3 separate regions of the Homo sapiens genome follow, and all the other regions are linked to region 3. Evidence: fine-mapped expression QTL. A gene starts in region 3. Each other region holds a variant in brackets. All regions are shown on one strand. Distances are from middle to middle. Region 1 has its middle 3.5 kb from the start of GMCL2. Region 2 has its middle 8.4 kb from the start of GMCL2. Region 3 holds the start of PHYKPL (5-phosphohydroxy-L-lysine phospho-lyase).

Evidence for each region.
Region 1: its variant is fine-mapped to the expression of PHYKPL in whole blood (INTERVAL, PIP 0.98).
Region 2: its variant is fine-mapped to the expression of PHYKPL in whole blood (INTERVAL, PIP above 0.99).

The regions. Positions count from the first base shown.
Region 1 is chr5:178,189,491-178,192,245 of GRCh38, forward strand. No RefSeq gene overlaps it. Among named protein-coding and RNA genes, the nearest start is that of GMCL2, 3.5 kb to the left of the region's middle. The variant G/A (reference allele first, on the strand shown) is at 1,056.
Region 2 is chr5:178,194,367-178,197,121 of GRCh38, forward strand. No RefSeq gene overlaps it. Among named protein-coding and RNA genes, the nearest start is that of GMCL2, 8.4 kb to the left of the region's middle. The variant C/CA (reference allele first, on the strand shown) is at 1,072.
Region 3 is chr5:178,231,231-178,233,985 of GRCh38, forward strand. PHYKPL (5-phosphohydroxy-L-lysine phospho-lyase) reads right to left here and starts at 1,572. Exons shown (of 13, transcript NM_153373.4): 1 at 1,262-1,572; 2 at 175-293. The coding sequence starts at 1,320. RefSeq lists silencers at 997-1,316, 1,397-1,806 and an enhancer at 1,196-1,734.

The DNA of each region.
Region 1 (2,755 bases), 42 kb before region 3:
ACCTGGGGTACAGTCTCAAGAGGTCCTGAGAAAGTGTGCCTCAGATGGTTGGGTTATAGTTTGGTTTTATACATTTTAGGGAGACAGAGGTTACAAGCAAATACATCAATCAATACATGTAAAGTACACATTGCTTCAGCCTATAAGGGCAGGACAACTCCAGGGGAGTTACAGGTCATAGGTGATTCAAAGGTTTTCTGATTGGCAATTGGTTGAAAAAGTTAAGCTTTGTCTAAAGAGTTGAAGTGGCTGGGTACAATGACTGACATCTGTAATCCCAGCACTTTGAGAGGCCGAGGAGGATGGCTTGATCCCAGGAGTTTTCAACAAGCCTGGGCAGCGTAGTGAGACCCGGTGTCTACAAAAAAATTTTAAAAATTAATTGGGCATCGTGATGTGCACCTGTAGTCCCAGCTACTTGGGAGGCTAAGGTGGGAGGATTACTTAAGCCCAGGAGGTCGAGCCTATGGTGAGCCATGACTGTGACACTGCATTCCAACTCGGGGGACAGAATGAGACCCTGTCTCAAAAATAAAATAAAACAGGCCAGTTGCAGTAGCTCACACCTGTAATCCCAGCACTTTGGGAGGCCAAGGCAGATGGATCACTTGAGGTCAGGAGTTCAATACCAGCCTGGCCAATATGGTGAAACCCCATCTCTACTAGAAATAGAAAAATTAACTGGGAGTGGTGGCATGCATCTGTAATCCCAGCTACTCTGGAGCCTGAGGCAGGATAATTGCCTGAACCTGGGAGGTGGATGTTGCAGTTAGCCGAGGTCGCACCATTGCACTCCAGCCTGGGCAACAAGAGTGAAACTCCATCTCCAAAAAAAATAGTAAGATAAAATAAAATAAAGAGTTGAAGGCATGGTGGCTCACGCCTGTAATCCCAGCAGTTTGGAGGCCAAGGAGGGCAGATCACGAGGTCAGGAGTTCGAGACCAGCCTGGCCAATATGGTGAAACCCTGTCTCTACTAATAGTACAAAAATTAACTGGGTGTGGTAGCACACATCTGTAGTCTCAGCTACTCTGGAGGCTGAAGCAGGAGAATC[G/A]CTTGAACCCAGGGAGGTGGAGGTTGCATTGCACTCCAGCCTGGGCGACAGAGCGAGATTCCATCTCAAAAAAAAAAAAAAAAGCGTTGAAGTCAGTGGGAAGAAATGCTTGGGTTAAGAAAGGGGTTGTGGAAGCTGAGGTTCTTGTTACGTAGATGAAGCCTCCAGGTAGCAGCCCTCAGAATAGATAGTGAATGTCTCTTTTCAGACCTTCAAAAGTCTCAGACTCTCATTGAATCTCTCCTAAATCTGACAAAGTCCTGGCTACATTAATGGAAATTCTCTACAGATGCAAATTTCCCCCATGGGAGACAGCTTTGCAGGGCCATTTCAAAATATTGTCAAATAAATATATTTTGGGGTAAAATATTTTGATGCCCTTCAGGGTCTGCTATCTGTTACGTGATGTACCAGAGTCAGGTAGAAATTTGGCATCTTATTGCTACAAAAATTCTGTTTTGAGCCAGGCACGGTGTCTCACACCTGTAATCCCAGCACTTTGGGAGGCTGAGGTGGGTGGATCACCTGAGGTCAAGAGGTCAAGAGTTTGAGAGCAGCCTGGCCAACATAGTGAAACCCCATCTCTACTAAAAATACAAAAAATTAGCTGGATGTGGTGGTGGGCGCCTGTATTCCCAGCTACTCAGGAGGCTGAGGCAGAAGAATTACTTGAACCCGGGGGCCAGAGGTTGCAGTGAGCCAAGATCATGCCATTGCACTCCAGCCTGGGCAACAAGAGCGAAACTCTGTCTAAAAAAAAAAAGTCTGTTTTGTCAGTCTTATGATCTCTATTTTATTTATTTATTTTTAATTTATTTTATTTTATTTTTGAGACAGAGTTTCACTCTCGTTGCCCAGGCTGGAGTGTAATGACGCTATCTCGGCTCACTGCAGCTTCTACCTCCCAGGGTCAGACAATTCTTGTGCCTCAGCTTCCCAAGTAGCTGAGATTACAGGCATGTGCCACCATGCCTGGCTAATTTTTTGAATTTTTTGTAGAGATGGGGTTTCATCATGTTGGCCAGGTTGGTCTCGAACTCCTGACCTCAAGTGATCCACCTGCCTTGGCCTCCCAAACTGCTGGGATTACAGGAATGAGCCACTGCGCCTGGCTAGAATAAATACTTTATGCTTTGGGCCAACAGGCAAAATCGAGGGTATGAAGTCGGTAAGTACATACCAAGAAATGAAACCAACTTCCATAATTTGGGGGGATTGCTATTGACAGAATGTCAAAGTTAATTTATGGATGCTGAAAGTTGAGTTTCATACAATTTTTATGTGTCATGAAATATTATTATTTTCATTATTTATTTATTTATTTGTTTATTTATTTATTTATTTTTGATACAGAGTCTTGCTCTGTCATCCAGACTGTGATCTCAGCTCACTGCGACCTCTGCCTTCTGGGTTCAAGCGATCCTCTGCCTCAGCCTCCCAAGTAGCTGGGATTACAGGCACATGCCACCACACCTGGCTAATTTTTTTGTATTTTTAGTAGAGATGGGGTTTCACCATGTTCAAGGCCAGGCTGGTCTTGAACTCCTGACCTCAAGTGATCTGCCTGCCTCAGCCTCCCAAAGTGCTGGGATTATAGGTGTGAGCCACTGCACTCAGCCTGATTTTTTTTTCAATGATTTAAAAATGTAAAAACCATTCTTTGTTCAGGGATCATATAAAATCAAGCAGTAAGCAAAATT
Region 2 (2,755 bases), 37 kb before region 3:
GAGAAAGGCAGGCTTTCTGTGTCTATGTCTCTGTGGTCTTTCAGACTCAGCACTTGGGTAGGAAGATGAAAACCTCGGAGTGCCCCTTGTCTCTTTCCCTTGGGTCTGATTAGACCAAAGGCTGGTGTGGTGGAGGAGGTGAAAGGACCTGGCACGGGGAGGCTGGAAGCCCAGCGCTGCTCTGCTCACTTTCCCCTCTGCCAGCCTTTGTTACCAAAAGGTCTGGACTTGATCTTGGAAATGCATCATTTCTTGATCCTTCTCTAGCCTTTAGGGACAAATATACTAGAAGAAAATGGTCAAGACAATTGGTGCCACCAGCAGGAGGCATAGCAAGGAAGCAGGGGGTGAAAGGGTTTCTCCTTGAGAGAAGCAAGCCTCTGAGTCCAAGGCCCTCCACCAAGCGGCTCTGGTCCAGTGTTCCAGCCTTATTGCCCATCCTGCTCCATGTATGGAGTTGGGGGTTGTCACCACACACAAACACAACGTTCTGCCAACTCACCCTCCTCGATGTCTCTGTTCATCCCCTCCTTCCCATTTCCTCCACTGGACCACCGCCATAGCAGTATTCACTGACTTCCAGTTTCCTGCGGGATAAATCTGAACCCTTTGTCGTGGCACCCAAAGCCCTTGCCCAGCCGCGCTGTCCCAGCTCCTCTTCATCGTGTGGAGCAACTTGCAGTTCTCCAAGCAGCCTCTGCTTTCTCAAGCTTGGAACCTGAGCTGTGTCGTCTTCTCTGCCTGCACCCCTTCTTTTCCATCTCTGCTGGAGAACCCCTGCTTAGCCTCAGTAAAGATGTTTAAGGGACAGTTATGCATGAGGGTTTAGAGTTCACAGACCCAGTCTGTCCTGGAGGTCAAGGGCATGTTGCTGGCAATTGCAGCGTCAACAATTCAATTGAGTAAATACATGAGTGAATAGATGAATTGTTGTGGAATCAGAAACTGAGGCTCGGCCGGGCACGGTGGCTCACGCCTGTAGTCTCAGCACTTTGGGAGGCCGAGGCGGGCGAATCACGAGGTCAGGAGATTGAGACCATCCTGGCTAACACGGTGAAACCCCATCTCTAC[C/CA]AAAAAAAATACAAAAAGTTAGCTGGGCATGGTGGCGGGTGCCTGTAGTTCCAGCTACTCCGGAGGCTGAGGCAGGGGAATGGTGTGAACCCAGCAGGCGGAGCTTGCAGTGAGCCGAGATTGCACCACTGCACTCCAGCCTGGGCGACAGAGTGAGAGTCTGTCTCAAAAAAAAAAAAAAAAAAAAAGAAACTGAGGCTCAATCTGGGCACGGTGGCTCATGCCTATAATTCCAGCACTTTGGGAGGCTGGGGTGGGTGGATCACGTGAGGTCAGGAGTTTGAGACCAGCCTGGCCAACATGGCGAAACCCCGTCTCTACTAAAAATACAAGAATTAGCTGGGCATGGTGGCGGGCGCATGTAATCCCAGCTACTAGGGAGGCTGAGGCAGGAGAATCGCTTGAACTTGGGAGATGGAGGTTGCAGTGAGCCGAGATCACACCATTGCAATCCAGCCTGGGCCAGAGAGTAAGACCCTGTCTAAAAAAAAAAAAAAAAAAGAAAGAAAAAAAGAAACTGAGGCTCAAAGAAAGAGCCCGCAGGTCCACACTGACCTAGTGGCAATGCAGACATAAACATAAACAAAGCCTCTTTTAGGAGCCACTGCTGCCTCTCAGAGGGAGACAGAAATTTCCCGGTTTAATAGGCTTTCTCCCCACCTAATCTGCAGTAGTGAGTCCTAAAATCTGTCCCTGTCCCAATGACTGGTGCCTAGAATGCTTCATAAAAGTGAGAGTCCAGCCCCAGAGGTCAGGGAGTCTGAAGTTTCAAAGACTACACAGGGGATAATGTTGCAGATGAGGCCGGGCCCCTGTGTGAGCTGTGCCCACTGTGTGCAGCTTTGTGAGCTCTCCAGGAAACTGGGAGGATTAGGGTTTTGTATGTGAATCACATACTTCATTAAGGACTGATTCCAGTATAGGGCTCTAGCCATTTCTGATTGGTTTCTGATGGACAGAGGCTGCCTCTGAGACTCAGCAGGGCGTGGGGTGGCTGTGGCAAGAATGTGTGATTTTAGGGAGGCCGCCAGCAGATTCTCTCTCCAGATCTCTTACTTGTCTGTTTCAAGGATTTGACTTGAGATGTATTTTGAGATATATTGTTGCGGGGTGGCTGGGGGCCTGGGGGTGTCAGCAGGCAAAGGAATGTTCCCTTGGATGCTTCCACTGTTGCTGTTAGCAGTCACAGCAGCTCTCACAGCGGGCGCTGTTCTAAACCCTTAGCAGCCGTCCTCCCATAGCCCTGCAGGATGGTGGAGAGACAGGTGCCATTCTCTTTTTTTTTAAGATGAAGTAGGTCGGGAGCTGTGGCTCATGCCTGTAATCCCAGCCCTTTGGGAAGTTAAGGCAGGCAGATGGCTTGAGCCCAGGAGTTTGAGACTAGCCTGGGCAACACAGGGAGACCCTGTCCCTAGCTAAATAAATAAATAAGCTGGGTGTGGTGGTGCATGCCTGTAGTCCCAGCTAAGTGGGAGGCTGAGACGGGAGGATCACTTGAGCCCAGGAGGTCGAGGCGAGCCGTGATCACATCACTGCACTCAGAGCAAGACCCTGTCTCAGAAAAAATGTAAAAAAAGATGAAGAAGCTGAACTTCATGGAGGTCTGCTTAGGGATCCACATCTCAGATGCTCTTGGTCAATGTCAATAGGTTTAGTGGGACCCTGGAGGAAGACATTAGAACAT
Region 3 (2,755 bases):
CAGATTGCAGAATTCCACAGCTATATTGCGAAGGCTGAGCCTCCTCTGCATACTGACAGTGCCTCAACTCCACCCAGGTTCTCCACACCTCTCGGCAATCTCAGGTCACCTTGGGACCAGGTTCACAGCACTGCCTTCCTCTCCTGCCCTGCCAGCCTGAGGTGTGATACTGACCGTGCGCCACATTGCTGATGCAATCGATGTATTCTGCCCCCTGTTCATCGTACATGTACTGCCCTTGGGCCCGGACAATCTTAACAGGATCCTCGGGAAAAAAGAGTCTGCAGGAAGAGCTGTGGGGACAGGCAAGGAGTGGACAGCCATGTCTGAAGACCGAAAGGGTGAAGTCTACTCATCGCAGACCCCCGCCCACCCCTTCCCAGTTTCTGGTGGCGGGGGGGAAATGAGAGCTGGAAGGGCAAGGTGCTGCTTCCCTGCCTTGTCTCTCCACTCCACAGGTGGTTGCAAAGCAGGAAGCAGATGGGGTAACAAGTCGCTGAAACTTCGGATTGTTTCTGAAAGCATTTTCAGCCTCTGTGGCCTCCTTGCTCATTTCTGCATGTGTCCGCGTCAGTCTCCCGGATCCTGAGAAAAGGTGGCTGCCCCGTCCCATGGGGACTCCATAAGGCCGCGTGTCTTCGATGGGATGGGCCAGGGCACCAACATTAGGTGCCTGGCTCTCAGCCCTAAACAGCTCCTTGCCAGCCACGTGGCCCTGCTGCCCCTCGCTGGGTGCCAGCCCTAAGCTCCAGTGGGAGGCGACCTCACCCACCGTCCCACCGAGGGCCCCCTCACAGGTCAAGTGTGCTGCCTGTGAACCGACTCCCCCGACTCTCCCTTGTCTGCCCTTTCAGCCCCCTCCCAGGTCACTCTCGAGCCAGGCCCAGGTGCTGCTGACGGGCCACCCTGGGTGAGGTCCTCTCAGGCGCCAGGGTGAAGGTCTTCTCCGGAGTAAAGGCTGCCAAGCGAGGCTGACACAGCCGAACAGCGGTGAGGGCGGGGCCGTCTCCTGAACTGGGCGGCCTGGAGACGGCGCTGTCGGGGAGGCGGCCCCGGAGACCACCCGCCGGGACTGCCCAACGGCGCCGCCCGCCTCGGGCCCTAGAAGCTCCAGCGGGGCCGGGGCAGCGGCCGGACGGGATGGGTAGCAGCGGCTTCCTAGCCGGAGGCGCGTGCGTAGTGCGTGCGTGCGTGCGTCGTGCGTGCGCGTGCCTCTCCGCGCAGCCCCGCGCCCCCCGCCGCCCGCCCCCCGCCCGGGTACCTGATGAGCCGTTGCCTCAGGGCCAGCGTGTCGGCCTTCGGGCGCTGGTCTGCGGCCATGGTGGGTGGCCGTCAGTCGGTGCCGTGACGCCACGCGGAGACGTCGCCGCGCGGGCTGGGCCTCCAAGGCCCCGCTCCGGGCCCCGCCCCTGCCTGGGTCGGGATTTGGGGCTCAGGTTCGCACTCGGCCCCGCCCCGAAGCGCCCGCGTTGCGGTGGTTCATTTCTTCGCTTGCCCACTGGGCCTGGCAGCCTTCCGGCCCGTGGTCGTGCCTTGGCAGTCCCGCGCAGGAACTCGAGCGCTGCCCCGTCTCTGGTTCCGGGACGCGCCCCGGGCCTCGCCCCGCAGGCCCCGCCCCGCAGGCCCCTGCGGCCTCCCTTCCGGGAAAGGGTCCCGGACGACCCCGCCCCTGCTCCCGGCGCCCAGGCGGGGCTCGGAGCTCCTGCAGGCCTTCTCTGGGCCAGACTCAGTCTTTGAGTCGCCTTGTGCATAAAATGGGATGAACTGTGAGGCCTAAGTGCGAGTATGTGACTGGTACCTTACCCGGGCCTGGTACACAGTAGGGGCCTCAGGGTGGGAGAAGCAGGTCCTAGGTTTTCCCAGCCCCATGAAGGGGCAGCAGGAAGAGCAGAAGGAGAGCCCAGGGTCCCTTCTGGGGCTGACCAAGGAGATCACCATGGGCTTGACCTTCAGGGCACCATAGTTCCTGCTAGAATCTAGGCAGGGTGAACCGGACGAGCTGTATCGTCGCTGAGAGAATCATGCAGCGTTTGGGCAAGAAGAGAGGTTGGGAATCCTCCTTGTGGTACATGTCGGTGACCCTGAAGCCCAGAAAGGGAAAGGGTTTTGTTGTCAGACACGCAGCAAGGCTGCAGAGGCTGGACTCCTACTGAGGTCTTCTTGACTCCCAGCCCAGGGAGTGAGAAGAAAAAGCCTCCCAAGGGGCTGGGATATGAGAGAAAAGCCCCCTCCTGGGGTGAGGCACTGGGGCTTTCTGCCTTGAAGAACCCTGGAACACGGGCCTGGGACTGCAGCAGGTGCAGGGGAGGCTCCTGATTGTCCCTTCTTTCTGTCCACATCATGATTCCCAGGCCTCTGCTTCACTCCCTCATTGCTGATTTCTTCTTCTCTTCCCAATACAGTTGTAAGATGCATAAGGCATTTATTGAACTCTTGACCTCAGATGATCTGCCTGCCTCGGCCTCCCAGAGTGCTGGGATTACAGGCCGGGTGAGCCACCGCACCCGGCCGCTTAAGGCATTTATTAAAGAACATTTGGAGTTTCTTTTTTCTTTATTGTGTAAAATATACATAACAAAATTTTACCATTTTAACCATTTTTAAGGATACAATTCAGTGGCAAAAGTACATTCACATCGTCGTGCAGCCATCACCACCATCCATGCAACAGGACTTTTTCATCTTCCCTAAAAGAATGGAATTTCTTATTTTTAACTGTAAAGCTGAATTGAATATTTTACATGATTTTTGGAAA